Linked DNA regions of Homo sapiens. The gene in region 1 interacts genetically with each later gene. Each region holds a gene or a part of one and is shown in the gene's direction. Other genes may lie near its edges. The genes, in order: NF1, PRDX1, CCDC144A, MARK2, CA4, CTSK and SYNGR3.

The links.
Region 2: changes in NF1 (region 1) and PRDX1 together harm fitness more than expected from each alone (negative genetic interaction), as found in Homo sapiens cells (one large-scale study listed by BioGRID).
Region 3: changes in NF1 (region 1) and CCDC144A together harm fitness more than expected from each alone (negative genetic interaction), as found in Homo sapiens cells (one large-scale study listed by BioGRID).
Region 4: changes in NF1 (region 1) and MARK2 together harm fitness more than expected from each alone (negative genetic interaction), as found in Homo sapiens cells (one large-scale study listed by BioGRID).
Region 5: changes in NF1 (region 1) and CA4 together harm fitness more than expected from each alone (negative genetic interaction), as found in Homo sapiens cells (one large-scale study listed by BioGRID).
Region 6: changes in NF1 (region 1) and CTSK together harm fitness more than expected from each alone (negative genetic interaction), as found in Homo sapiens cells (one large-scale study listed by BioGRID).
Region 7: changes in NF1 (region 1) and SYNGR3 together harm fitness more than expected from each alone (negative genetic interaction), as found in Homo sapiens cells (one large-scale study listed by BioGRID).

The regions. Positions count from the first base shown.
Region 1 is NC_000017.11:31,335,977-31,339,476, forward strand, and holds part of NF1 (neurofibromin), read left to right. Parts: intron 1-356; coding exon 357-497; intron 498-658; coding exon 659-938; intron 939-1,391; coding exon 1,392-1,606; intron 1,607-1,842; coding exon 1,843-1,904; intron 1,905-2,048; coding exon 2,049-2,163; intron 2,164-2,727; coding exon 2,728-2,829; intron 2,830-3,500. UniProt on the Homo sapiens protein: Stimulates the GTPase activity of Ras. NF1 shows greater affinity for Ras GAP, but lower specific activity. May be a regulator of Ras activity.
Region 2 is NC_000001.11:45,515,385-45,518,884, reverse strand, and holds part of PRDX1 (peroxiredoxin-1), read left to right. Parts: intron 1-3,077; coding exon 3,078-3,231; intron 3,232-3,500. UniProt on the Homo sapiens protein: Thiol-specific peroxidase that catalyzes the reduction of hydrogen peroxide and organic hydroperoxides to water and alcohols, respectively.
Region 3 is NC_000017.11:16,731,741-16,735,240, forward strand, and holds part of CCDC144A (coiled-coil domain-containing protein 144A), read left to right. Parts: intron 1-59; coding exon 60-243; intron 244-797; coding exon 798-926; intron 927-2,949; coding exon 2,950-3,500. UniProt on the Homo sapiens protein: May play a role in preventing the formation of kidney stones through inhibition of calcium oxalate monohydrate (COM) crystallization, attenuating COM-induced apoptotic injury to renal epithelial cells.
Region 4 is NC_000011.10:63,901,610-63,905,109, forward strand, and holds part of MARK2 (serine/threonine-protein kinase MARK2), read left to right. Parts: intron 1-588; coding exon 589-721; intron 722-991; coding exon 992-1,173; intron 1,174-1,451; coding exon 1,452-1,549; intron 1,550-2,376; coding exon 2,377-2,538; intron 2,539-3,176; coding exon 3,177-3,434; intron 3,435-3,500. UniProt on the Homo sapiens protein: Serine/threonine-protein kinase. Involved in cell polarity and microtubule dynamics regulation. Phosphorylates CRTC2/TORC2, DCX, HDAC7, KIF13B, MAP2, MAP4 and RAB11FIP2. Phosphorylates the microtubule-associated protein MAPT/TAU.
Region 5 is NC_000017.11:60,148,502-60,152,772, forward strand, and holds the start of CA4 (carbonic anhydrase 4 preproprotein), read left to right. Parts: upstream 1-1,471; 5' UTR 1,472-1,533; coding exon 1,534-1,591; intron 1,592-2,263; exon of another isoform or gene 2,264-3,028; intron 3,029-4,271. UniProt on the Homo sapiens protein: Catalyzes the reversible hydration of carbon dioxide into bicarbonate and protons and thus is essential to maintaining intracellular and extracellular pH. May stimulate the sodium/bicarbonate transporter activity of SLC4A4 that acts in pH homeostasis.
Region 6 is NC_000001.11:150,801,761-150,805,260, reverse strand, and holds part of CTSK (cathepsin K preproprotein), read left to right. Parts: intron 1-1,021; coding exon 1,022-1,240; intron 1,241-3,500. UniProt on the Homo sapiens protein: Thiol protease involved in osteoclastic bone resorption and may participate partially in the disorder of bone remodeling. Displays potent endoprotease activity against fibrinogen at acid pH. May play an important role in extracellular matrix degradation.
Region 7 is NC_000016.10:1,988,495-1,992,769, forward strand, and holds the start of SYNGR3 (synaptogyrin-3), read left to right. Parts: upstream 1-1,475; 5' UTR 1,476-1,608; coding exon 1,609-1,707; intron 1,708-3,479; coding exon 3,480-3,717; intron 3,718-4,141; coding exon 4,142-4,275. UniProt on the Homo sapiens protein: May play a role in regulated exocytosis. May indirectly regulate the activity of the plasma membrane dopamine transporter SLC6A3 and thereby regulate dopamine transport back from the synaptic cleft into the presynaptic terminal.

The DNA.
Region 1 (3,500 bases):
CCACTGCACCCAGCTCTGTATTTTCAAATTACTATTTTATATTGATGCTACATTACTGTCTTAGAAAAGCATAGAGATACTTTGCAAGTGACTGAAGATAGTATTGATAGAGATTTAAAATTTTTGAATACCAATCTCTTAATCTCTGAAGGAGTCAAATGAATATACTCATCCTTTACTGGATATTTTATAATAAATTGTATTTACTGACAGGCCTGTAAATAAAATCTAGTATTTTTGAGGCCTCAGGTAAAATAGAATTTTCATATTGATTAGGCTGTTCCAATGAATATTTTTTAATTAAAAATTAAATTGGTAGAGTGATTAAAAACATGTTATTTTCCTTCTTCAACTAGATTACAGATCTGCTTGATGTTGTACTAGACAGTTTCATCAAAACCAGTGCAACAGGTGGCTTGGGATCAATAAAAGCTGAGGTGATGGCAGATACTGCTGTAGCTTTGGCTTCTGGAAATGTGAAATTGGTTTCAAGCAAGGTAATCACTTTTCTTTTGCCTTCTGTACTATAGCATATCTGTTTTATCATCAGGAGGTTTTTTGTTTTGTAATTACTTTTAAATTAAACTGAACTTTTTTGTGCTAAAACTTTGAGTCCCATGTTTTTTTTTTTAAAAAAAAAAATCCTGCTTCTTTACAGGTTATTGGAAGGATGTGCAAAATAATTGACAAGACATGCTTATCTCCAACTCCTACTTTAGAACAACATCTTATGTGGGATGATATTGCTATTTTAGCACGCTACATGCTGATGCTGTCCTTCAACAATTCCCTTGATGTGGCAGCTCATCTTCCCTACCTCTTCCACGTTGTTACTTTCTTAGTAGCCACAGGTCCGCTCTCCCTTAGAGCTTCCACACATGGACTGGTCATTAATATCATTCACTCTCTGTGTACTTGTTCACAGCTTCATTTTAGTGGTAAGTTCTAGGAAAGGAATTTGTGTTTACCAGTTCCTTTCTCCATTTTACTTCACCTGATCAATATAGATTATCTTATTTATGTTTGTGCTCTAACACCAAGTTGCTAATTTAAGCCTCCAGTAATGACATGAAATATTACCAAAAAGAAAATAAATTACTTCCATTCCATATCAAGCTATAGTAAAGATTTTCTATGCATACTTGTCATGTAGAGTTATCCCATAAGCGGAATACTCAGTGCCAGTTGACCATGTTCAGTTACCAGCACTAATTTGTAGATAAATGAAGCAAGGAGCATTAATACAATGTATCTAGAGGTTTGATTTAGGGAACATGATTATGTAATTTTTATATGGTATTCAAATTTTCTAAATTCAAAATGAAACATGGAACTTTAGAAATTAAAAAGTAATATTTTCTGTCTTTACTTGTTCCTTTATTCTCTTACAGAAGAGACCAAGCAAGTTTTGAGACTCAGTCTGACAGAGTTCTCATTACCCAAATTTTACTTGCTGTTTGGCATTAGCAAAGTCAAGTCAGCTGCTGTCATTGCCTTCCGTTCCAGTTACCGGGACAGGTCATTCTCTCCTGGCTCCTATGAGAGAGAGACTTTTGCTTTGACATCCTTGGAAACAGTCACAGAAGCTTTGTTGGAGATCATGGAGGTATAGAAGCCAAAATGATAAGAAACTAAGTTAAAATCTTTTTTTAAAAATATGTTAATACTATATAGAAGAAATATTGGTTTATTGTGCTATTTTGTACTTAATGCTTAAATAAAAACACTTGCATGGACTGTGTTATTGGTAACAGGTCACTTAATGACATCATAATAAACATTATTTAAACAGTTCTAAAAACATTTATGTACAATATGTATTCAGAGTATCCCCTTTTTTAGGCATGCATGAGAGATATTCCAACGTGCAAGTGGCTGGACCAGTGGACAGAACTAGCTCAAAGGTATGTCCTAAATTAAATATAAGTTGTAAAAATATGCATATTGTTGAAAATACAGCTATTACTGTATGATCAATGTTATAATTTATTATTTAGTATATATAAACACAAAGGTTTTTATAAGTTCTGTGGATCTTTTAATTGCAGATTTGCATTCCAATATAATCCATCCCTGCAACCAAGAGCTCTTGTTGTCTTTGGGTGTATTAGCAAACGAGTGTCTCATGGGCAGATAAAGCAGATAATCCGTATTCTTAGCAAGGTACCTGTTCCGCCCTCACTTCTCCCAAATATTTATGGTTCTCAAGTTGTAAAGCATATCTTTCATTTTTCTAAAAGACGTTTAAATTTGAGGTCAATGAAATATCTTATATGTTACTTATTAAGCCTTTAAAATGTATTTTGATTATTTATTGTAATTCTTTGAAGAAGTCTTCTCTAAAGAAGCTGTCTTTATATGTAAACTCTGATTACTTCATTAAGGAAGATGTCTTTAAAATAAAATATGTTGCCTCTTTTGCTAAGCAGGTACACTTAGTATTTTACCAGTTTTCAAAGCATTTAATTATATGGTAAGACTATAGCCTTGCATAAAATTATTTAATTTGTAATTACTATAATAATGTCTGACTCTTATAATGTAGAAATGTCAAAAAATAAGAAAACAAATGTACATTAAGCTAGCTACCAAGATCACCATAGCATGAGAAATCATTCTAGCATTTATTAAATAAGTAAATGTTCCTGAATTCATTCCGAGATTCAGTTTAGGAGTTAATGTTTTATTTCAATGAAAGTAAAATAAAAAATTCTGTTTTCCTAAAAGGCACTTGAGAGTTGCTTAAAAGGACCTGACACTTACAACAGTCAAGTTCTGATAGAAGCTACAGTAATAGCACTAACCAAATTACAGCCACTTCTTAATAAGGTAATTACTGTATAGAAAATGAGTGCATTCATTTTGGGTATCAGTGTTGAATGTTACTTTCTTTCAAAGAGTTTAGAAAATAAGATGAATTGAGAATAAGTTATAAAGAAAAAACTATAGTTAAAGTAGAACCTCTTAAAGTTTAGTTGTTTGAAGTAGTCATATTAGAAGAAGAGTAAGTATGGATAGTATGTTCTCAAGCGCTTGTAAGTTTTTGGTCTCATCAGTGCTAAAGGAAAGATAGGTATATATTCTTAATTATTTTATCTTATAACTATTAATTATCTGCTATTGCCAAGTACTGTTTTAGGCGCTAGAGATAGAGTACTAACAAAGCCCATAAAACTCACTGCCTTCATGGAGCTTACTTTCTGGGGTGGGTGTGGAGGTTGGGGAGTGAATGGATAATGAAGTAAACAAAATACGTAGTATGTTAGTGATTATTACTATGGAGAAATTAAAGCTGGGAGAAGTATACTTGATCGTCATAAGAGTTTGGGTGCCAAATGAAGATTATATTTAAAAGGAGTAAAATGAAGTGGCCACTGTTTTAGGATGGTCTGACCTTATCCCATTTTTATATTTAAGATATCTGGAAATCATGTTTTTGTATTAATAAAATGAAAAAGATTCGATAATGGCATGGTATTACCATCCAGTTCTAAAGTGGT
Region 2 (3,500 bases), on another chromosome or scaffold:
GTGGCTTGTTAGATTTGTGTCAATGTTGTTTGACTGTAAAATGTTTTGTCTCCTAGGAAGAAGTATTTAGGTTGTTACCTTCATGTTGAAGTGGTGATTATCAAGTGATTACAGGGTATATATCCTAGGACCAAACCACTTCTGGAGAAACCACATGCTTCATTATGTCTGGACATACTAGCTCAATTATCTTTTCAGTATTCCTCGTCTATTTTCTTTCTTTATTTTTATTTTTGAGACAGGGTCTCATTCTGTCACCCAGGCTGGAGTGCAGTGGCGCAGTCATGGCTCACTGCAGCCTCTACCTCTCTGGGCTCAGGTGGTCCTCCTACCTCAGCCTCCCAAGTAGCTGGGACTGTAGGGGCATGCTGCCATGCCTGGCTAATTTTTGTACTTTTTTTTTTTTTTTTTTTTTTTGAGATGGAGTTTTGCTCTTGTTGCCCAGGCTAGAGTGCAATGGCGTGATCTCGGCTCACCACAACCTCCACTGCCCAGGTTCAAGCAATTCTCCTGCCTCAGCCTCCCGAGTAGCTGGGATTACAGGCATGCGCCATCATGCCTGGCTAATTTTTTTTTGTATTTTTAGTAGAGACGGGGTTTCTCCATGGTGGTCAGGCTGGTCTCGAACTCCTGACCTCAGATGATCCGCCCACCTCGGCGTCCCAAAATGCTGGGATTACAGGCATGAGCCACCACGCCTGGCTTAATTTTTGTACTTTTTGTAGAGCTGGGCGCCATGTTGCCCAGGCTGGTCTCCAACTCCTGGGCTCAAGCCCTCTGCCTGCCCTAGCCTTTCAAAGTGCTGGGATAACAGGTGTGAGCCACTGCCTCTGGCCCTCCTCTATTTTATTATTGGAGAAATACTCATTATCTCTTGTTATAAGAGACATTCTACATTTAAAGTCTCAGAGCTCACTCAAATCTCTGGAGCTGTGACACTGCTCGTTCAGTTTGTTTGGGTCACGTATATATCACAGCTGTTAATATTAGGCTGAGGGCTAGGCACTTTCCCTTGCCTGTTTTGACCCCGGAGGAGAGTTGATATTACAGATGGAACAACTCTCCTTTCTGTTGTCATAGTTTTTTTTTTTTTTTTTTTTTTTGAGACGGAGTCTCGCTTTGTCGCCCAGGCTAGAGTGCAGTGGTGCGATCTCAGCTCACTGCAAGCTCCGCCTTCTGGGTTCATGCCATTCTCAGGCCTCAGCCTCTTGAGTAGCTGGGACTACAGGCGCCCGCAACCATGCTTGGCTAATTTTTTTGTATTTTTAGTAGAGACGGGGTTTCACCATGTTTGCCAGGATGGTCTCGATCTCCTGACCTTGTGATCCGCCTGCCTTGGCCTCCCAAAGTTCTGGGATTACAGGCGTGAGCCACTGCGCCCGGCCTCTGTTGTCATAGTTTCATGCAGACACTTGGCAAGTTCTGTTGAGGCTCCTCCTTTCTTTACCTTGTAGTTCCAGAGCAGCTCGATCTCCTGGGACAGTTGAGGATATAGATTCCTTAGAATGCTAACCTGAAACTCAGGTGTCAAGTGTCCTTTTCTCAGTGGTGTAGCATTAGTCCCTGGAGTTAGTTTTTGGTAGAACATTTGACTAGGTTTCCTGACATAATCACACTTTGTTCTTGGGGCTTCTCCCAGCAAACAAGGTAAGTTGCACCATAGGGAGGTGACCTGGGCCCAGGGGTATAAGCAGGAGGTCTAGGAGGAGCTGTTCTCTGCCCTCCAGAGCTTGACCTGCTGAGGCCCCAAAGTGCTTGTTAGGCAAAGCTGGAAGGGTTGTTTAGATGAGTTAGTTTCCAGTGATACTGCAAAGTGGTAAATGTCAAAAAGGGCTGCTTGTTTGGCTTTTTTTTTTTTTTTTTGAGGTGGAATTTTGATCTTGTCGCACAGGCTGTAGTGCAGTGGCATGATCTCAGGTCACTGCGACCTCCATCTCCCCGGTTCAAGTGATTCTCCTGGCTCAGCCTCCCCAGTAGCTGAGATTTCAGGCCCCCGCTGTCACACCCAGCTAATTTTTGTATTTTTAGTAGAGACATGTTTTACCATGTTGGTCAGCCTGGTCTTGAACTCCTGACCTCAGGTGATCCACCCGCCTCGGCCTCCCAAACTGCCTCCCAAACTGCTGGGATTACAGACGTCAGCCACCATGCCACCACACCCAGCCTGTTTGACTTTTCAAACATTGCTGCTACCTGGAAATGAGTGAATATTTGGAATTGTTCTAGTATTTAAGCCTGGTGGGTGTGGCGAGAAGGCTGCCTGGCCAGTTTGAAGATCTGTTATTTCAGTGGTTAATCCCAGTGACTTCATTAAAATTGCAGCTAGAAGTTCTGTTACTCACTAGTACTTTTGTCTTTTCTGTCTCTCTCTGTCTCCCTCTTTCTCTCTCTCTCTCTGTGTATATGTATATATATATTTCTGTTGTTTTGAGACAGTCTTGCTGTGTTGCCCAGGCTGGCCTCAAACTCCTGGGGTCAAGGGATCCTCCCACCTCAGCCTCCCAAGTAGCTGGGACTACAGACACGCACCACTGTGCCTGGCTTAAAATTTTTCCTGTCCTGTCAGGCACGTTAGGAACACATGTGATCACTTAAACCATGCTTGTTCCATTACTATGGTTCATCACGGGAGAAGTGCAAAGGCTGTGACTTCTTATTGGTGTCTTATCTCTACAGCAGAGGAGTACTGCAATTCAGCTTTCTCTGGGTATTGTTAAGCATTGGCATTAGGCCATGCTTATAAGTGCATCCTTGCTTTTGCTATCTTTGGAGAACTTGGTGTTTATGTTAATTTTAGCCACTCAGAAAAGATCAAAATTAGACTGAACAGTGTTTACTCTGTATTGGTAGCTATGACATGGAGGCAGGAGAATAAAGTATGGGATTGGAAGTTTTTTTCATTCAGGTATTCCTAATGCACCAGGTTCTAAAAGTAGCTTCTAGGAGACATCTGTATTGAGCATCTTGGCAGTTAGTGGTTATTGTGTCAGCCATCAACTTGCTTCTTTTTGTATAGGAAAATATAAAGCAAGGAAGTCTGTGTCAAATGCTAACCATGACTCCGATTTTCCCCCCAGGAAAATATGTTGTGTTCTTCTTTTACCCTCTTGACTTCACCTTTGTGTGCCCCACGGAGATCATTGCTTTCAGTGATAGGGCAGAAGAATTTAAGAAACTCAACTGCCAAGTGATTGGTGCTTCTGTGGATTCTCACTTCTGTCATCTAGCATGGTAAATCTCTTGGTCTATTTGGCATGTGAACTTTTTTTTTTTTTTTTTTTTTTTTGAGATGGAGTCTTGCTTTGTCGCCCAGGCTGGAGTGCAGTGGTGTGATCTCCGCTCACTTCAAGCTCTGCCTCCCAGTTTCACGCCATTCTCCTGCCTCAGCCTCCTGAGTAGCTGGGACTACAGGCGCCTGCCACCATACCTGGCTAATTTTTTGTATTTTCAGTAGAGACGGTGTTTCACCGTGTTAGTCAGGATGTTCTTGATCTCCTGAC
Region 3 (3,500 bases), about 15 Mb from region 1:
AATAAACTTTTTTATTTTTTAACAAAACACATTTTAATGTAATCCATGTTTAACTGCAGACTTGCCTTAAAACAAGAAAATGAGGAGAAAAGAAATGCCGATATGTTGTATAATAAAGATAGTGAACAGTTAAGAATAAAAGAAGAGGAGTGTGGGAAAGTGGTTGAAACAAAGCAACAACTTAAATGGAATCTGAGAAGACTTGTTAAGGAATTGAGGACAGTAAGAAATAACTTGGATCTGGTAAATTAATCTTTGGTGTAAACTTCATTTTTCTAACTTTATGTTTCATCGGTATTACTTATAATTTTTTGCCTTCATGTATATCATTTAGGTTTAAAATAAACCAAAACTGTTATTTCCTCTTAAGAATGAACTATGACATTTATAGATAAAATTATTTACTGTAAACCTTGTCATCTAATAGATGCTCAGTCTGTGTTTTTAGAGTGGAGGATAAGTTGAGTTTAATCACTAATATAGCTGTTCATTTACACATTTTTTATGTTAAAATACAGGCTAAATAGCTTTGAAACTATAAGGACACTAGTTAAATGTTTTGAAAGAAATTTTATTTCACAATGCTGTATCTTCTCGTAGTTAAGAACTGTTTTTCCTCTTTGACAGATTTAGCTGTCATGTATGCAATTAAGATTTGAGTGATTCTTGAGGGATAAAAGTTCTTGTGTTTTAACAGGCTACTTCTTTTTAACCGTTTTATAAGAGAGGCTCTGCTCTTAACCTTTTAGATTTTCTTTTTCAGTGCTATTAGACCAAAACCTCCATGTTATCTCTAGGTTGTGCAGGAGAGAAACGATGCCCAGAAGCAACTTTCTGAAGAACAGGATGCCAGAATATTACAAGATCAGATTCTGACGAGTAAACAAAAGGAACTAGAAATGGCTCGAAAGAAAATGAATTCTGAGGTATTTTCTTTAGTCATTTTCAAATATATTTTTGTATGTGAATATATTTTTAAAAAACAACTCTGTGCAACTTGGAAAGTACAATGGATTTTTGAACTACACACACACACACACACACACACACACACATTTGGGGGTGGTGATGGTGGTTCTGGCATTTTTGGCTCATTGAATAAAGTCATGTTCTTAATTCAACTCCATTTGTTTGCAAGAGTCAAGTAGTGACATTCACAGTGGCCTTATCCAAAGGAGAAACATTTGTTATTTTTCATAGAATTAATGATCTTTCCACAATCTCAAAATCCTTGCTACTAACAACAGACGTTCTAGTTTTCAGACATTATTTCATCTTCCTAATATATTAATGGAGAGGTTAGATTATTATTTCCACTTGTAGTAAGGATGAAATGTATAGCCAGTTCAGAGGCCGTACTTCAGATGCCGTTTCCCTTACTTTTGAGGAGAGTAACAGTTTGCTCCAAGTAGCGTCTCATTTCAGTGCAAAGAGCTTTGAAAACAATGATATGCCATAATATAAACTTGGTGATAATTTATTGGTAAGTGTTTTTTCTTAGAAAAATAGTTCAGTGTGTGGGAGACTGAGGCGGGTGGATCACGAGGTCAGGAGATCAAGACCATCCTGGCTAACGCGGTGAAACCCCATCTCTACTAAAAATACAAAAAAAATTAGCCAGGCGTGGTGGCGGGAACCTGTAGTCCCAGCTACTCGGGAGGCTGAGGCAGGAGAATGGCGTGAACCCTGGGTGGCGGAGCTTGCAGTCAGCCAAAATTGGGCCACTGCCCTCCAGCCTGGGTAACAGTGCGAGACTCCGTCTCAAAAAAAAAAAAAAAAGAAAAGAAAAATAGTTCAGTGTATTTCACCCTGTTTCATGCTTATTTCTGTTTCAGACATTATAAAGAGGAAACTTAAGTTATTGTAATAACAGATAATCTCATGATTTTCTAAGAAAAGCTCTGTAACTTCTTTTTTTACCACTGGTGTTTTGAAATAAGCCTCTTTTATATTTATATATACACAACACAGAAGTAATTGTGGTTTGGTGGAAGAGCACTAGAAGTAAAGTAAGGGGACCTAGGGAAAATCCTGCAACTTGCATATTTTTTGACCTCTCCTTTCAGAATTGTGTATAAATGAGTTCAGTGATACATGTACAAGTGCTTGGTACAAGGCCAGGTGCAGTGGCTCACGCCTGTAATCCCAACACTTTGGGAGGCCGAGGTGGGTGGATCACTTGAGCCCAGGAGTTCCAGACCAGCCTGGGCAGCATGGCGAAACCCCATCTCTACAAAAAGTACAAATACATTTAGCTGCGTGTGGGGGTGTGTGCCTCTAGTTCAGCTACCCAGGAGGCTGAAGTGGGAGGATCACCTGAGCCCGGGAGGCCAAGGCTACAGTGAGTCTTGATTGCGTCACTGCCCTCTAACCTGAGTGATGGAGTGGAGACCCTATCTCGAAAAAAAAAAAAAAAAAGCCTAATATAATGCTTAGATTTAGCATTTATGAATAAATGTAATTCTTATATAACTGATGAGAAAAATGTTAGAAAAATAAATAGCTATAGAATATTCTCAGGAAAAAAAGAACTTAAAGAACGTTGGAACATTTCCTCTGTCCAGATATATGCAAAGCTACAGCTTTTACTATAGGGTGGTGTATAGGTTAGATGTCAGAGTGTAAAGCCAATTTTTTAATGTAGTCAAATTTATTAATCTTTAATGCCTTTGAGTTTGTTGTAATTTGGAGACCGTCTTTTCCAATTCTGAGATGCTTAAAAATTCTCTAGTTATTTATGTTCTACATTCATGGATTCATTGTCTTCAAATAAACTTATGAAGTTTTGGGAATTTATGCTCTATGAGGTTTGAAGTTTCGATAGAATATTTTTTTCCAGTTGGATATCCACTTATGGCAATCTTTTCATTGTATACATTATTTAATTTCAGAGAAAATCATAATCTGTCATTTTATTGAGTGCTACTGAATGTTTCCTTTCTTACTTAGATTTCTCATAGGCATCAGAAAGAAAAGGATCTCTTTCATGAAGATTGCATGTTGCAGGAAGAAATTGCCTTGCTGAGACTGGAAATAGATACAATAAAAAATCAGAACAAGCAAAAGGAAAAGAAATATTTTGAGGACATTGAGGCTGTGAAAGAAAAGAATGATAACCTTCAAAAAATTATAAAACTAAATGAGGAAACATTAACAGAAACAATACTCCAGTACAGTGGACAGCTGAACAATCTGACAGCTGAGAACAAAATACTCAATTCTGAACTGGAGAATGGGAAACAGAACCAAGAAAGACTAGAAATAGAAATGGAATCATACCGTTGTAGACTAGCTGCTGCTGTACGTGACTGTGATCAAAGTCAGACAGCAAGAGACCTAAAACTTGATTTCCAGAGAACAAGACAAGAGTGGGTTCGTTTACATGACAAAATGAAGGTTGATATGTCTGGCCTACAAGCTAAGAATGAGATTCTTTCTGAAAAACTTTCTAATGCTGAAAGTAAAATTAACAGCCTACAAATTCAGCTCCATAACACAAG
Region 4 (3,500 bases), on another chromosome or scaffold:
CTGGGATTACAGGCATGTGCCACCATACCCGGCTATTGAGTCTGTTGCTTCTGTCTAGTGCTTTATGTTTGGGTGTGTGTATCTGTGTGTGTGTGTGTGTGTGTGTGTGTGTGTATGTGTCCGTCTTCCCGTCTGTGGATCTGGAGACTTTGTGATTGTTCTTCTGCCCATTTGGGTTTTGTTCATCATCTGAGTATCCCCACATGAACTCCCAGCCTCCCTGCCCTGCTCTCCCTCTGGTGGTGGGATCCTTAAGAGGCACCTGGTGACACTTGGTATAGGCCCATATTGCTCTGTGTTGAGGGGAGTGGACTTGAGTCTGGACATGTGTTCTTGCGGATGTTTGTGTCTCTGGGTGTGTGGGCTTATGTATTCCTTTCTGAGACTGTGTTTGTCAGTGTCTGTGTCAGAGCATGTGTGTCTCCAGGGTCTCCTCCAGGGGGGATGTATTGGTCTTACAAGTGGATGTCCGGTATGATCCTGGGGTGTTTGAGTGTTGGGAGAGGGCGGTATGTGTAAATGTGTCCATCCATAGGGATCTCCACATGACTTCTGCCCTCCCTTGAAGCTGTTTTCTGTTTCTTTCAGCTGGAAGGCGACACCATCACCCTGAAACCCCGGCCTTCAGCTGATCTGACCAATAGCAGCGCCCCATCCCCATCCCACAAGGTACAGCGCAGCGTGTCGGCCAATCCCAAGCAGCGGCGCTTCAGCGACCAGGGTAAATGCTTTTGGGAGTTGTAGGTGGGGACTCACCCCTCTCCAGAGAGGTTACAGGTTCTGTGGGGACTTGGGTAACACAACTAAGTTTCAGTCCTGGTTCAGCCACTTATTAGTAGTGTGGCTATGGGCAAGCCACTTCCCTTCCCTCGCCTCTGTGGAATGGGGGCTTGCTGGGTTGTTGGCCAGCCCTGTAGGAAATGAGCATGCGTGGGGCTGGCACTCAGTGGACCCCTTGGCCTTACCCATTCCCATCCTCCCTCTGGCCCAGCAGCTGGTCCTGCCATTCCCACCTCTAATTCTTACTCTAAGAAGACTCAGAGTAACAACGCAGAAAATAAGCGGCCTGAGGAGGACCGGGAGTCAGGGCGGAAAGCCAGCAGCACAGCCAAGGTGCCTGCCAGCCCCCTGCCCGGTCTGGAGAGGAAGAAGACCACCCCAACCCCCTCCACGGTGAGCCGCACCCCCCGCTCTCTCCTTCCTTCCTGCGGTGGGGCCTGCCCTCTCCAGGCAGCTCTTCTCTTAATTCAGACTCTGTTCCCTTTGGCTACTACTTCTGCTTATAGCAGGAAGCCTCGCTCCCAGCAGTAAATGCAGAATCCTTTCCTTAACCTACCACTGTCTGCTTCAGGTGGAAGGGACAGGAAGCCTGTTCCATGAACCTGGGGGGAGAACCTGGCTGTAGACCACTTTGGCTTTCTGATAGAACGCTTGCCCTTTATTCCCCACAGAACAGCGTCCTCTCCACCAGCACAAATCGAAGCAGGAATTCCCCACTTTTGGAGCGGGCCAGCCTCGGCCAGGCCTCCATCCAGAATGGCAAAGACAGGTGAGAGACCCGGGCCCTGCCTGCCTCACTCCCTAGGAGCCATGTCTCACAGGGTGATGTCTGTCAGCAGCACCGTCTCCTGTCCCTGCCAGCGCATTGCTCCCTGCTCCCTGGAGTTCCATCCTGGCTGTGTCCAGTCCAGCTTTCCCCTCCCCTATTCCACGCCATTGCCTCCTCCCCATCTTCCTCTGACTGCTACTTGCAGTTTGCCAAGTGTGGGGCTGACCGTGGCCATCTCAGCTACATGCTCGCTTCTTGACCACGGCCAGGGCATGGCAGCTGCCCTCCTCTAGACATGAGCAGCTAAGGCCTTGTGTTGGGGGTCCCAGCTCAGGGCAGAACCAAGAGATGCCCACCTTGAGGGGTGTACACATAGAGGGCGACTCCAGCCATCCCCATGAGACCAGAGCTCCCCAGCCTTCACCGGCCGCATTTCTTGGTGTTGCATTCCTGGCTCTATCTCTTCTGAGTTTATGAAAGTTTCCCCTCAGCAACACCCCACTCTTTCTGTAGAAGAAACTCTCCTGTTCTTAAAATTCTTAGGAGGCCAGTGCAGCCTGGAGGCAGCGGCCCCTTGTCTGCTCTCCTTCATTTCTGATTCCTCTTCCCAGGCACTGACCCACCTCGCTGCTTCCCGACCTCACTCACCTCCACTTCTCAGCCCCGCATTCCTCAGTTCTGACTTGCATCCCGCTGCTGCCCAGGCCTGACTTCTACCCTGCCAGAGCTCCCCAGCTCTGGCCCTTCCCCTGCCCTTGCTTCCTAATCCAGGCCTCCCGCCCTCACTCACCCCTAACACGGGCCTCTCCGCTGCTTTTGTTTCCTAGCCTAACCATGCCAGGGTCCCGGGCCTCCACGGCTTCTGCTTCTGCCGCAGTCTCTGCGGCCCGGCCCCGCCAGCACCAGAAATCCATGTCGGCCTCCGTGCACCCCAACAAGGCCTCTGGGCTGCCCCCCACGGAGAGTAACTGTGAGGTGCCGCGGCCCAGGCAAGTGTGCTGGGGCAGCTGGTGCACCTGCTGCCCTCAGCCCACCCTACCCCCTTGCCCCAACAATTTCTTCTTCCCACTTGGGGGTCCTGCTGTGTTCTTGTCATCTTAGCCACAAGAAATGGGTCTGTCCCCTGCGGCCAGGAAGTGGAGGGAACAAAAAAGAGCATTAATGCCCCTCTTTTCCAGTTCTCCCTCTCAGAACAGGTATGCAGGAAGCTGTCCTAAGGCTCCAAAGGGAAACCTTTTTGTTCTGAACCTTCCAGGGTTTCCTTAGGGACCCCGGGGATAGTCGGCATCACAGGGACTCAATCCTCAAGGGTTGGTCCCCATTGCCGCCTTGAGGGTCCAGTCTGCCCGGCTCCCAGGGAGCCCGCTGTCTCCAGCCTAAACCACACTCCACACAGGGGTCCTTCCTTGCCTCCCTCCCTCCCTTCCCAAACCATCTCCTTCCACTTCCACGAGACTTCCTTCTCACCACTGTCCTCAGTAGTCACACCCTTCCTTCTGTGTCCTCGTGATGGCTGCCTCTGCCCTAGCATCCCCCTCCCTGTCCCCACCACAGGGTGTCCAGGTGCCCAGTGATGGCTGTCCTGTACCCTAATTCGTCCCCCTCAACCCCACTTCTCTTCCCACAGCACAGCCCCCCAGCGTGTCCCTGTTGCCTCCCCATCCGCCCACAACATCAGCAGCAGTGGTGGAGCCCCAGACCGAACTAACTTCCCCCGGGGTGTGTCCAGCCGAAGCACCTTCCATGCTGGGCAGCTCCGACAGGTGCGGGACCAGCAGAATTTGCCCTACGGTGTGACCCCAGCCTCTCCCTCTGGCCACAGCCAGGGCCGGCGGGGGGCCTCTGGGAGCATCTTCAGCAAGTTCACCTCCAAGTTTGTACGCAGGTAAGCAAGGAGCTTTGGGTGGCAGAGAGGCTCAGGCCAGGCCTTCCTGCTTTACTCGGGGTGGGT
Region 5 (4,271 bases), about 29 Mb from region 1:
AAGGGACATTTTTATAGCCCTGTGAACACAAATGCACTCCCCAGAATAGGCTCTGGGTGTGGAATCCCTCCTGTGGCTGTCATGGTCGCAGGCTGGTGATTACATTATACAGTGGTGTTGACAATAGAGCCCTAAGCCTGGCATGGACACCCCCTCACCTCCCTCCTGCCTCTCTGTAGGATCAAAGCTGCTCTGTGAGGCTGTGTGATCCTGGGCCAGGAGCGGGGAGTCAGCCTCAACCCTAAGCAAGGAGGAAGCATCTTTGCCTGAATCCTTCTGGGGGAGGCAATCCCCCTTCAGAAGTCCCTAGCCCAGGTTCGAAGGTCGGTAGGGACTGAGAGGTTGGCAGCGGATGGGGAGTGGCTAAACCAGAAAAAGGGGGCTTCCTGTTGATGGATTGATGGAGGAGGTCCAGGTCCACTGCCTGGTTCCCCGTCCCTCTCCCGCACCCCAGCCTGAGCTTCCCAAACTCCCACAGAAGCCCCCACCCCATGTGGGACACAGAGGACCTGCAGTAGCAGGAGGGCACAGCTAAGAGAGGAGACAAGAGGCAGCTTGGGGGCATGGGGGGGACCCCATTTCCCCAAATGTTGGAGCCGCCCTTAAGGGAACTTCCCCTGGACTCCTCTGGAGGTCTTGCCAGATGGGAGAACCAGGGGTCCATTCAGACCCCAGTCTCTTCTCTTCCCATCTCATCTCTCCACCTGGGGGGCTCAAAGAACCTAGCTCCTCCCCTTTGACCCCATCAGCTTCTCCCTCACCGAATCCTCTTACAATCCATTTCTTAATTCTGCCCCATCAACCCTCCCTGGTCATCACATAAACACCAGCAAGGGCAGTAGTTTAGGGACAGCTTTGCTCTGTATTCGAAGAAAGGTCTTTGGTCTGCTTAGAAATTAAGTTTGGAGCAGCCTGGGAGGAAATAGAAGAGATGAGACCCAGAGAATCAATGGCCACTGCCAAAGAGAGATAGGAGAGCCTTTCTGCGGCCACTGATTCAACAAACGGCATCACACGCCCCTCAGCCTCTCATCTCTTCGAGGCCATCTCCACCCCCACCCCCACCCCCACCCCAAGGCCATTCCAAGGTCCCATTCAAGACCACTGCGCAGGGGTGGCGCCAGAATGATCAAAGTCATCATGGGGCACTCATCTTTGTGTGGGTCAAGCACTTTGTGGTGTCGTGTCCCTGTTCCCAAACCAGGGACCAGGAGTAGGATGGGGGAGGGGCAGGGCGCCGCTGCTGAGTGGAGAGGACGCGGAGTGGGTGAGGGGGCCTTGCGCACAGGGCAAGAGGTGGCCAGGCAGGGCGGGGGACCGGGGAGAGCGGAGGATTTCAGATGAGGGACAGGGGAAGGTGGAGAGGGGAGGGCAGGCCCCGCCAGGGGGAGGAGCCGCCTCCCGCGTCCAGCTGTCGGGGCTCCCTCCCGTCGCGGCTCCGCTATAAAACCCAGGCCGGCAGGATCGCTGCACCCGCGGCGGCCTCCTCGGTGCGCGACCCCCGGCTCAGAGGACTCTTTGCTGTCCCGCAAGATGCGGATGCTGCTGGCGCTCCTGGCCCTCTCCGCGGCGCGGCCATCGGCCAGTGCAGGTGAGCTCCCGGGCTCCGGCCCCAGGTGCCCCTCGGCGGTCCCCTCCGTGCCCCCAGCTCCCGCCCCTGCAGAGGATCCCCCCGCGGGCGACCGGTGAGCGTCGGTGGCGCTGGGGTCCCGGGTTGCGTGTGCGCCGGGGGCCGCGAGGGTGCGGGAGGACTGGGCAGCGCGCGAGCTTGTGTGTGCACACGCGTGTCAGCACCGGCTGGGGGAGCGTGTGCACGGGTGTGCGCGGTGAGGGTGTGTGCGCGTGGCCCGGCGAGACGAGTTGGGAGTCCCTGATAAGGATGCGTCTCAGGCCGGGCGCGGGTGCTCCAGCCTGAAATGCCAGCACGTTGGGAGGCAGAGGCGGGTGGATCACCTGAGCCCAGGAGTTCGAGACCAGCATGGCCAACATGGTGAAATCCCATCTCTACCAAAAATACAAACATTAGCCGGACGTGGTGGCACACGCCTGTAATCCCAGCTACTCGGGAGGCTGAGGCCCGAGAATCGCTTGAACCCAGGAGGTGGAGGTTGCAGTGAGATCACGCCACTGCACTCCAGCCTGGTGCTCCGTTTAAAAAAAAAAAAAAAAAAAAAAAAAAAAAAAAAAAAGGATGCTTCTCGGACCCGCCTCAACGCACGCCTTCTTTTCTCACCCAGCCTCCTCCGTCTGCCCGTGGGTTTCCGTCCGTCCCGCTGGGACTCAGCGCTGGGTGACTGCCCCGCGGCCAGAGCAAGGGCGGTCTGGCAGGGTCCTGGAAGCCGCGCTTCCCACACGGGTTCCTTGCCCCTGAGGGTCGCAAGCTCCCCTGGCCTCCCTAACCTCCAGCGCTGAATTGGGAGCCTGGCGGGGGCGGGGGGTGGGGGACCCGGAGCCCCAAGGCCTCTGCGGAGCCGGTCTTTCCGGACAGGGTGATTTTCGTTTAAAGATTAATGGTGAAGCCGAGCTCTTAATTATTCCTCTAGGTGGGAGGTGGCAGGAAAGGCATGTTAATATTTGATAAGAAGCTAAAGGCGCTTCAAGCGGCTGGGCACAGGGATCCGATCCTGGAGGCACCTTCTTTGCAACCCCAGACCCCATCACCGGAAGACCCCCTCTGCCAGTTCTCAGCCCAACCACCCCTCGGATGGTTCTTGGGGTCCACGCAGGCTGAAACCTCCTCTCCCAAGTTAGGTGCTCCATCCTCAAAGCGGCGGAGTGAGGGGTGAAGGTGTCCTCTGCACAGAGAGGAGCCAGCGTGTGCCCTTTGCAGCAGGGACTGGCTGAGCTGTCTTAGAGGGTCGAGGGGCACCTTGCAGCCTCTCCACCGGGCCCCTGGGAGAAGAAAGAGAAAAAGCAGAATGTGGAAACTTTTATTTGTAGGGTTGGACATTGGAAACCTACTAAGCAGCTAGAAAGTAGAAAGAGAAATGCTTTGCAGTTCTGGTGCTTTGTAGCTGTGTGGTCTTGGGTAAGTCACTTCCTGTCCCATTTGCAAAACAGGTGTTGTCATTCTGACTTCAGGGGTTTTAAGCGTTTGAATAAGATAATGGGTTTAAGTGATTAGTGCGGTGCCTGTGTGGCACGTGGCTGGTGTGTCATATACCAAGTTTATGGGGCTCTCCCCCAAGCCTGGGGCCAGTGTCAGGAATGTGTCTCAGCTCACCCCTCACACAAGCTGCTATCCCCTTTAGTGCCAAGGCTTTCTGACTGGGACCTGCCTTCCATTCATCTTATGGAGGACTCAAGCTGAGAAGGGACCAGGTTGCATATGGCGACCCCCAGAGCATCTCTGTCCATTGAGACAAGAGGCCGGGTGAGGATATTTGGTCCCCTTCAGAGCCCCAGACCCCTGGCCGGGAGCGACTGAGACTTTGCCCAGGAAACACTTGGGTTGTGCTGAGCTGTTTTTCAGGATTATCCCCTGTCCCTCAGAGGGGGAGGTGGGGTGAGCAAGGTCCATTAGAGAGGCTTCTTCAGCCATCTTGAAATAAGGGGGAGGGGTGGCAGGTCAGTCAGTGTGGGGGGCAGTAGCTGGGTGACAGGCGACTGACTTTCGGTCTCTAACCTCTGGTCAGGGTGGATGGACTAGGTAGGATGTGGCGCTGGACACCGAGACCTCTGGGTAGGTAGCCCCTCTCCTTCCCAAGCCCTCTTGGGAGTGGCCTGAGTCAGTGGGCTGGTACTTACCTGCAAGGGTGGCCCTCTCATTCAACGAAGACAGGAACCTGAGTGGTGGGTGCTCCTGCCACCAGCACCCCACCCTCATCCACCGACATGGACCTGACCCCTGGCCTTGACCTCACCACCATTATGTTTTCCTGGCTGCTGCTTCCTGAAGAAGGTAGTTACAAGTGCGTTCAGCCAAGCAGGTCAAAAGTCTCCATGATTAAGACAGTGGATCACAGGTCACCACTACAAACCTAGGAGCTGCGGCCAGAGCCAGGGAAGACCAAATTCCTAAGAAAAGCTAAGCCTGGACCAGATGGGCCCCAGGGAGGCTGTGAGGCGAGTTACAGGGGGCTCCACCCTTTGCAGCTGGCTCTTGGGGATGCTGGCTGAAGGGAGGCTTCTCCTGGAATGGCTGCCCCCGGGCCCTCCAGTCAGAGAAGAGGCCAGCCCAATCTTCAAAACCCCTTCCTCCTTCAAGACCTCTGCGGGTGGGGACATGGGATGATTATGGCAAGGAACTGTCATGGTGCAAATGCCCTCTG
Region 6 (3,500 bases), on another chromosome or scaffold:
GTTAGGTCACAAATAATCCTTTCCCCCCCCCCAAATTTTTTTTTTTTTTTTGAGACAGCGTCTCTGTCACCCAGGCTGGAGTCCAGTGGCGCAATCATGGCTCACTGCAGCCTCAACGTCTCAGGCTCAAGTGATTCTCCAACCTCAGCCTCCCTAGTAGCTGGGATTAGAAGCACATGCCACCACACCCAGCTAATTTTAAAAAATTTTTTGTAGAGACAGAGTTTTGCCATGCTACCCAGGCTGGTCTCAAATTCCTGGGCTCAAGCAATCTGCCCGCTTCGGCCTCCCAAAGTGCTAGGATTACAGACATGAGCCACCATGCCCAGCCCAAAAAAGTTTTTGCAATCTTACATTCTTACTAGCATGAGAATGTCAGTTTTTTCACAACCCAAACAACACAGGATTGTATCAGCAAGATAAACAATTGATTTAACGTTCATTTAACAAACACTTTTTGACCCCCAGAACCTACCAGATGCAGTGTTAGGCAGCAGAGACTCAAGATGACTAAGACACAACCTGTGTCCTCAGGAAATCTCAATCTAAAAAAATAGAACAGGAAAGAAAGAAAAATCTACAATCTAGCTGCACAAACAATAATAGCTAATACTTTTTGAGATTTTATTGTTTGTCAGGAACTTCTTAACTCTTTACATGAGTTAAATATTTAATCCTTATAACAATATTTTATGCATAGAGAAACTGAGACACAGGCAAATTTAGTAACTTACCCGGGGTCACATAGCTACTGGGTGGCAAAGTCAGGGTTAGCACCCAGGACAAATGCCTCCACAGCTGGTACTGTGCTCTGCTTTACTGTAGCTAATAGTAAAAATGGTAGCAAAAATCAATAGCAGTAGAACAGTGCAACAGATATTAAGCGGAAGAGGAAGACTCACAACAATGACAACATTTGTGCTGAAATTTTTAGAACACATGGAATTTCTTCAGGCAGGTAGAGAGAAGATATAGAAAATGTAAACAGCAAAGATTGATAGTTTCTCTGTATGCCTTTCAGGGTCAGTGTGGTTCCTGTTGGGCTTTTAGCTCTGTGGGTGCCCTGGAGGGCCAACTCAAGAAGAAAACTGGCAAACTCTTAAATCTGAGTCCCCAGAACCTAGTGGATTGTGTGTCTGAGAATGATGGCTGTGGAGGGGGCTACATGACCAATGCCTTCCAATATGTGCAGAAGAACCGGGGTATTGACTCTGAAGATGCCTACCCATATGTGGGACAGGTGAGATTGCTCCACACAATTATACAGCTCTGTTGGCTCCTCCTTCCCCAGCATGATGTTTTGTACTGGAAACAATTCCAGAAATACTGTTTTCTGTTATCCTATCCTGCTTTCTTGATGGAATAATTTCCCACAGAAGGCCAAGAAGATTTCCACAATCTGGGGGAATTTAGGGAGCTTAAGCTACTATAGCTCCTATTTGCATCTCTGCCATGGAGAGAAAACAGAGGCTAGGCTACCTACCCCATAGACTTCCGAGCTGGGTTCTATAACCCTCTGCTCAATTCCTCACTCCCACAACAAACCCACAAACCCACCATGCTATTTTCACAAATTGTGTGGCTTTATTTTATATGATCTCAGTGTGAGTTTTCAGAACATTTCAGCAAATTATGTAAGTTTACATGCTAACATCTATAAAATGAGAGAAAAAACAAGTTGCTTCATATAAGAGATAAGGGATTAACTCAGTTCCTCCTGCATGATCCTCTAGTCATAGGAAGGAAATCATATCTGAAAGGGAGGCAACCTGAGGGGTTTTTTATACACATAGGGCTGGGTCTGATAGACAATATAATGTAGGGCCTTCACAACAGAAACCTCTGAAACAGGGACAGCAAGTTTGAGAATAAAAATGATGGCTACTGTGTTCTAAGCCGTGTCCTTAGTGCATTTTTTCTTTTTCTTTTTTTCATTTAATCTCATAACAACTCTGTTAGGTAGACTTATCTTGAATGTATAGGTGAGGAAATGGACACTTAAGGAGATAAGACAGTATAATTCATACCACTAGTATGTAACAATGTAAGATGTATCTACCAGGGATGTTTATCTTCTGCAAACATTCCTAGGTATATCTCCCATGCACATGTGCAAGAATTTCTTACTAGGATATAATGCCTTGGAACTGAATTGTCTGGGTCTTAGGGTATGTCTGTCTTCAACTTTACTACACAATGTCAAATTGTTTGCCAAAATATTTGGAAAAATTTATACCTGCAATGTGTAAGAAATCCCCTTCAATCACCTTTTTATCAGTATGTTTATCTGGCCATTTGCATTTCTTCTTCAGTGAATTAACTGTTTTTATCTCTTGCTCATTTGTTTTTCTTTTTATTTTTTTGAAATAGGGTCTTACTCTGTTGCCCAGGCTGGAGTGTGGTGATATAGTCATAGCTCACTGCAGCCTCCACTTCCTGGGCTCAAGCAATCCTCTCGCCTCAGCCTCCCAAATAGCTAGGATATAGGTGCATGCCATCATGCCCACCAATTTCAAAAAACCTTTGAAATTTTTTTTTGTAGAGGCTAGGCATGGTGGCTCATGCCTGTAATCCCAGCACTTTGGGAGGCTGAGGTGGGAGGATCACTTAAGCCCAGGAGTTCCAGATCAGCCTGGTACAACATAGCAAGACCTCATCTCTACAGAAAAAATTTTTAAAAGTAGCCAGGTATGATGGCGTGCATAGTTCTAGCTACTCAGGAGGCTGGTTGGGAGGACAACTTGAGCCTGGGAGTTCAAGGCTGCTGTGAGCTGTGATCATGTCACTGCTCTCTAGCCTGGGTGACAGAGTGAGACCCTGTCCCCAAAAACAACAACCGTTTTTTTTGGTAGAGACATTGTCTCGCTATGTTGCCAAGGCTAGTCTCAAACTCCTAGGCTCAAGCAATCCTCCCACCTCCCAAAGTGCTGGGATTATAGATGTAAGCCACCATGCCTGGCCTACCCTTTTTTTTTTTTTTTTGAAATGGAGTTTTGCTTTTGTCACCTAGGCTTGAGTGCAGTGGCGCGATCTTGGCTCACTGCAACCTCCACCTCCTGGATTCAAGCAATTCTCCTGCCTCAGCCTCCTGAGTAGCTGGGATTATAGGCACCCGCAACCACGCCCGGCTAGTTTTTGTATTTTTAGTACAGACAGGGTTTCACCATGTTGGCCAGGCTGGTCTTGAACCCCTGACCTCAGGTGGTCCGCCCGCCTCGGCCTCCCAAAGTGCTGGGATTACAGGTGTGAGCCACCATGCCCCACCCCTTACTCATTTTTAATTGGATTGTTTTTTCTCTTTCTTAGCGATTCTTAAAAGTTTAAAGAGAATATTTGGATACAATACTATGTATTTAAAAGTTGAGGTTTGTCTTTTCATTCTTTTTATGATGTCTTTCAATCTAGAAAAGTTAATTTTAATAGGCCTGGCGCGGTGGCTCACGCTTGTAATCCCAGCACTTTGGGAGGCTGAGATGGGTGGATCACAAGGTCAGGAGATC
Region 7 (4,275 bases), on another chromosome or scaffold:
TTGCAGTGAGCCAAGATTGCGCCACTGCACTCCAGCCTGGGTAACAGAGTGCGACTGTAACTCAAAAAATAAATAAATAACTAAAGAAATAAATGAGTCGACAGCAGCATCAGACTTGCCCTTGGGATTGGCACGGAGAGGTCAGTGGCAACCTTGAGTTTAGGTGGCGGTGGGAGCTGATTCTGCCGGGTCAGAGGGAGAGAGAGGAGGGTGTTGCAGGCAGAGTTTGCTGCTAAAGGAAGCAGTAACGTAAGGCAGCTGGAGGGGAGGTGGGGTCAACAGTGTTTGGCTTTTAGGAGAAAGTGCAGCATGTCTGGGTGCTGATGTTAGTGATGAAGTAGAGAATGAATGACACAGAGGGGAGGTCTGTGGCCAACAGGTGAGAGGGGTTGTGATCGGACGCACAGTGTGATGGACTTGGAACACAGTGAGTAGCGCCTCTGGCAACACCTGCTCTGCCCACCTGTGCCCAGCAAGGCTGAAGAATGAGCTCCAGGGGGGCTGGGCCACGCAGCACCATCTGTGCACCCGGCTCGTGTAGCAGGGACCTGGGTTGCTTATTATCTGAAGTACAGGGTGGTAACAGTCTCCGCCACTACACAGGTCAAGCGCTTGGCGCTGTAAATGTCAGTGCAGACATCTCAGTGCTCTAGACAGAAACCTAGGAGTCATCTGAACTTCCAGCCTGCTAGGAACATGAGGAGAGGGACCTTGTTGCACCCAAGGCTGGGGTCTGTGGAGGGGACTCAGCGGGACACAGGGCAGCCAGGCACCACCCCCACCCGACTCCTAGTCTCTGATGCCGCTCCCTGCCCTCCATTCCAGACTAGGCGCCGCAAGTACGCTGGGGAGACCCAGGAGTAGGGAGGGCATTGGGAGCACCACCACCTGGCCACGGGCAAGGAGCGGAGACACCGAAACCAACACTCCCAGCGGCGCTGGCCACGGTGGCTCTGTCCCCTCCCTCAACAGGTGCTCCTGGGGCCAACGCCTTTCTTCCCACCAGATCCTCCCCGCCAGAGGCTAGAAGCTGTGATAGCAGCTAGAGCACAGTGGGGGGCCATGAGAAAGACCCCAGTTATCCATCTGGTCTTCTTGGGACCAGGGCCAGGGAGCCGGTCCCCTCTCCCGTGGGTTGGGGGAAGATGCTGCAGCCCGTGGACCTCCTACCCCTTTACTCCCTCACCCAAGTGCCCTTCCCAGAGGAGCGGACTCCTCCTGTCTGTCCTCCCGGCTCTAGCAAAGTCTGCGCCCAGCACCCGAGCCCCACCCTGCCCCCGGGGACCTGGCTGGTGGGTTCCTGAGGATGGTCTCCATCTCGGGACCGGGGCAGGCAGGTGAGGGTGGGGGATGGGAGGTGGGCGCGGCGGAGGGAGAGGAGGGACCCGGCCCCGCGCGCATGGACCCAGTGGGGGGCGCGGGCGCGGCCCCGCCCCGTCCCGCGCGTCCCCGCCGCGGCCGGCGCGCGCTCCCGGGAGGCGGCAGCGGCTGCAGCGTTGGTAGCATCAGCATCAGCATCAGCGGCAGCGGCAGCGGCCTCGGGCGGGGCCGGCCGGACGGACAGGCGGACAGAAGGCGCCAGGGGCGCGCGTCCCGCCCGGGCCGGCCATGGAGGGCGCCTCCTTCGGCGCGGGCCGCGCAGGGGCCGCCCTGGACCCCGTGAGCTTTGCGCGGCGGCCCCAGACCCTGCTCCGGGTCGCGTCCTGGGTGAGTGGTCCCTGCCCGGGCCCCCGCTCCCGCCCCTGCCTCGCGACCTTCAGGCCCCTACCAGCCCCCTGCCCCCTACCCCCTGCCCCCTGCTTCTCGCCCCCCGACCTCACTCACTCTCATCCTCGCCGGCCCCTCCCCCGCCGGCCTCAGGTTGGGGTGACGTCACCGGGCAGGGCGCGCCCACCTGCGGGCGGAGGAGGGGCCGGCGGCGCCGGAGAGGGACCTTGAGAGGTCACCGCCGGTCGCCTCTACCCCTACCTCCTCCCCGGGTCTAATTTCAGTCCCTTTCCGCAGCCCTTACTCCGTTTTTCCTGTTCTCGTGACCTGGAAGCAGGGACGGGGTGGGGACGGAATTCTCCGAGGGGCAGGAGGGGGCTACGGGAACCGAGAAGCGCCTCCCCTTCCCCCGCACACACACCCTCGGGTCTCCTTGGCAGGGAGCCTGTCCCCTGGCCCCCAGTTCCAGCTGTGAGTTGAGGGAGGAGAGGCTCTGGGCTGGGAGGGCTTCCTGGCGGCGGTGTGGAAGGCAGGTTTGGGAGCAGCCTAGCCCACTGGGGCGTCCCTGGGAGGGCCCTGCTGCTCCTTCCCTCCGGCAGGGGAGGTGGCAGTTGGGTGCCGAGCTCTGGGTTTTGTCCAGGTGGCAACCTCTGGGCCAGCCGCACCTCGGCGCCTGTCTTGGAGGAGGGCGGTGCCCACGGTGGGGCAGGGGCTTTGGCCTCCCCTGCGGAGTGGCTCTGACCAGACCGGGAGGCAGGACGCTGCGTTTTGGTCCGAGCGCACGTCCCGACTTGTGGCCCACTCTTGGGGACAAGTGCATGTCCCGGCTTCCCCCTTGGCTCCACTCTCGGAGCTGGAGCGGGAAAGGAGCGAAGGGATGAGGTTGAGGCTGGAGGTCGTTTCTTGGAAACACAGGGCTGCCCCGTGCAGCGCTGGTTAAAATGACTGCGGTCCCCCTCATGCCTGTCTCCCGGAACTGGTGGGCAGGAGGCATTGAGGTTTGACGGAACCTCAGAGGTCAACGGTGTCATCTTTTCAGCCCAAACACTTACAGGTGATATTAATAATCAGTCACGTGGGGGCTGTCATCCCTCGGGTACCCACCACGTGCAGGAAGCTGGGTGGACATGTCTGTCCCAGCACTGCATGAGCTGTGCCCGTCACCCTATTTGCATGCTAGAAAACAGGCCAGACAGTTCCCAACCGCGCAGGAAGCAACAGCTCCGCTGCCTCCATACCCTCCCTCCCGCCCCGCTCTGCCTGCTGCACTCTCACCTCCCCTTCGCCGTTCCGGCTCCAGCCTGGGAATCGCGGGCCCAGGTGAAGGCTCCTGTTCCCACACTCTTGAGTGGGCTCTGAGGGGACTCCACGGGCCCACGCGGTGCAGAGTACCTGGCTTGAATCAACCCCGGCTTTTGTCAGCCATGTGATCCCGGACAAGTCACTTCACCTGTTGGGGTCCCAATGTCCCCCGCATTTATAAAGAGAATAAGAACAATGGCGATCCCACGGGGACTTTCTGAGGATTTGGTGAGGGGACGCATGTAAAGTGGCTGTTTAACACAATGTCTGGGCATAGTAGATGCTCACTAAACGGCCCGTGTTGTCAATAATTACTAAATACGCGAGGGTTCGGGAAAGAAAGAGGTGACACCGCCCCCCACCCAGATACGGGCCTGGGAACGCAGGGACAGGCCCAGGGGCGTGGGCGCTCGAGGCGGGCTCGCAGAGGTCGGGTCGCCGCAGGGCCCTGAGCGCCGCGCCGCACGCAGGTGTTCTCCATCGCCGTCTTCGGGCCCATCGTCAACGAGGGCTACGTGAACACCGACAGCGGCCCCGAGCTGCGCTGCGTGTTCAACGGGAACGCGGGCGCCTGCCGCTTCGGCGTCGCGCTGGGCCTCGGAGCCTTCCTCGCCTGCGCCGCCTTCCTGCTGCTCGATGTGCGCTTCCAGCAAATCAGCAGCGTCCGCGACCGCCGGCGCGCGGTGTTGCTGGACCTGGGCTTCTCAGGTGGGCGGGGCCGGGGCGGTGAGCGCGGAGAGCCTTCCGGGTGGGCGGGGAGGGGGCGGGGCCTGGGCGGGGAACACCGCTGGAGTTTCCAGCTGGGCGTGGCCGTGACGAGGGGCGGGGACTGAGGCAGGGAGTGTCAATGGGCCTCCCGGGTGGGCGGGGAGGGGGCGGAGCCTGGACGGGGAGCGCCGCGGGACTTTCTAGGTAGGCGGGGCCCGGGTCTGGGCGGAGCCTGGGCGCGGAACGGGTCTGGCGCTCCCGGGTGGGCGGGGTCAGCGCAGGAGAGGGAGGCGGGACCTCGCGCCACGCGGCGAGCCCAGGCGAGGCGCCCCAAGCCTCGGGCCCACCGACCTTTCCTCCTCCGGGCGAGGCCGCCGTGGGCCACCGCGTGGAGCGTCGCCCTGACGCGCCGCACTGTTCGCAGGACTCTGGTCCTTCCTGTGGTTCGTGGGCTTCTGCTTCCTCACCAATCAGTGGCAGCGCACGGCGCCAGGGCCGGCCACGACGCAGGCGGGGGACGCGGCGCGGGCCGCCATCGCCTTCAGCTTCTTCTCCATC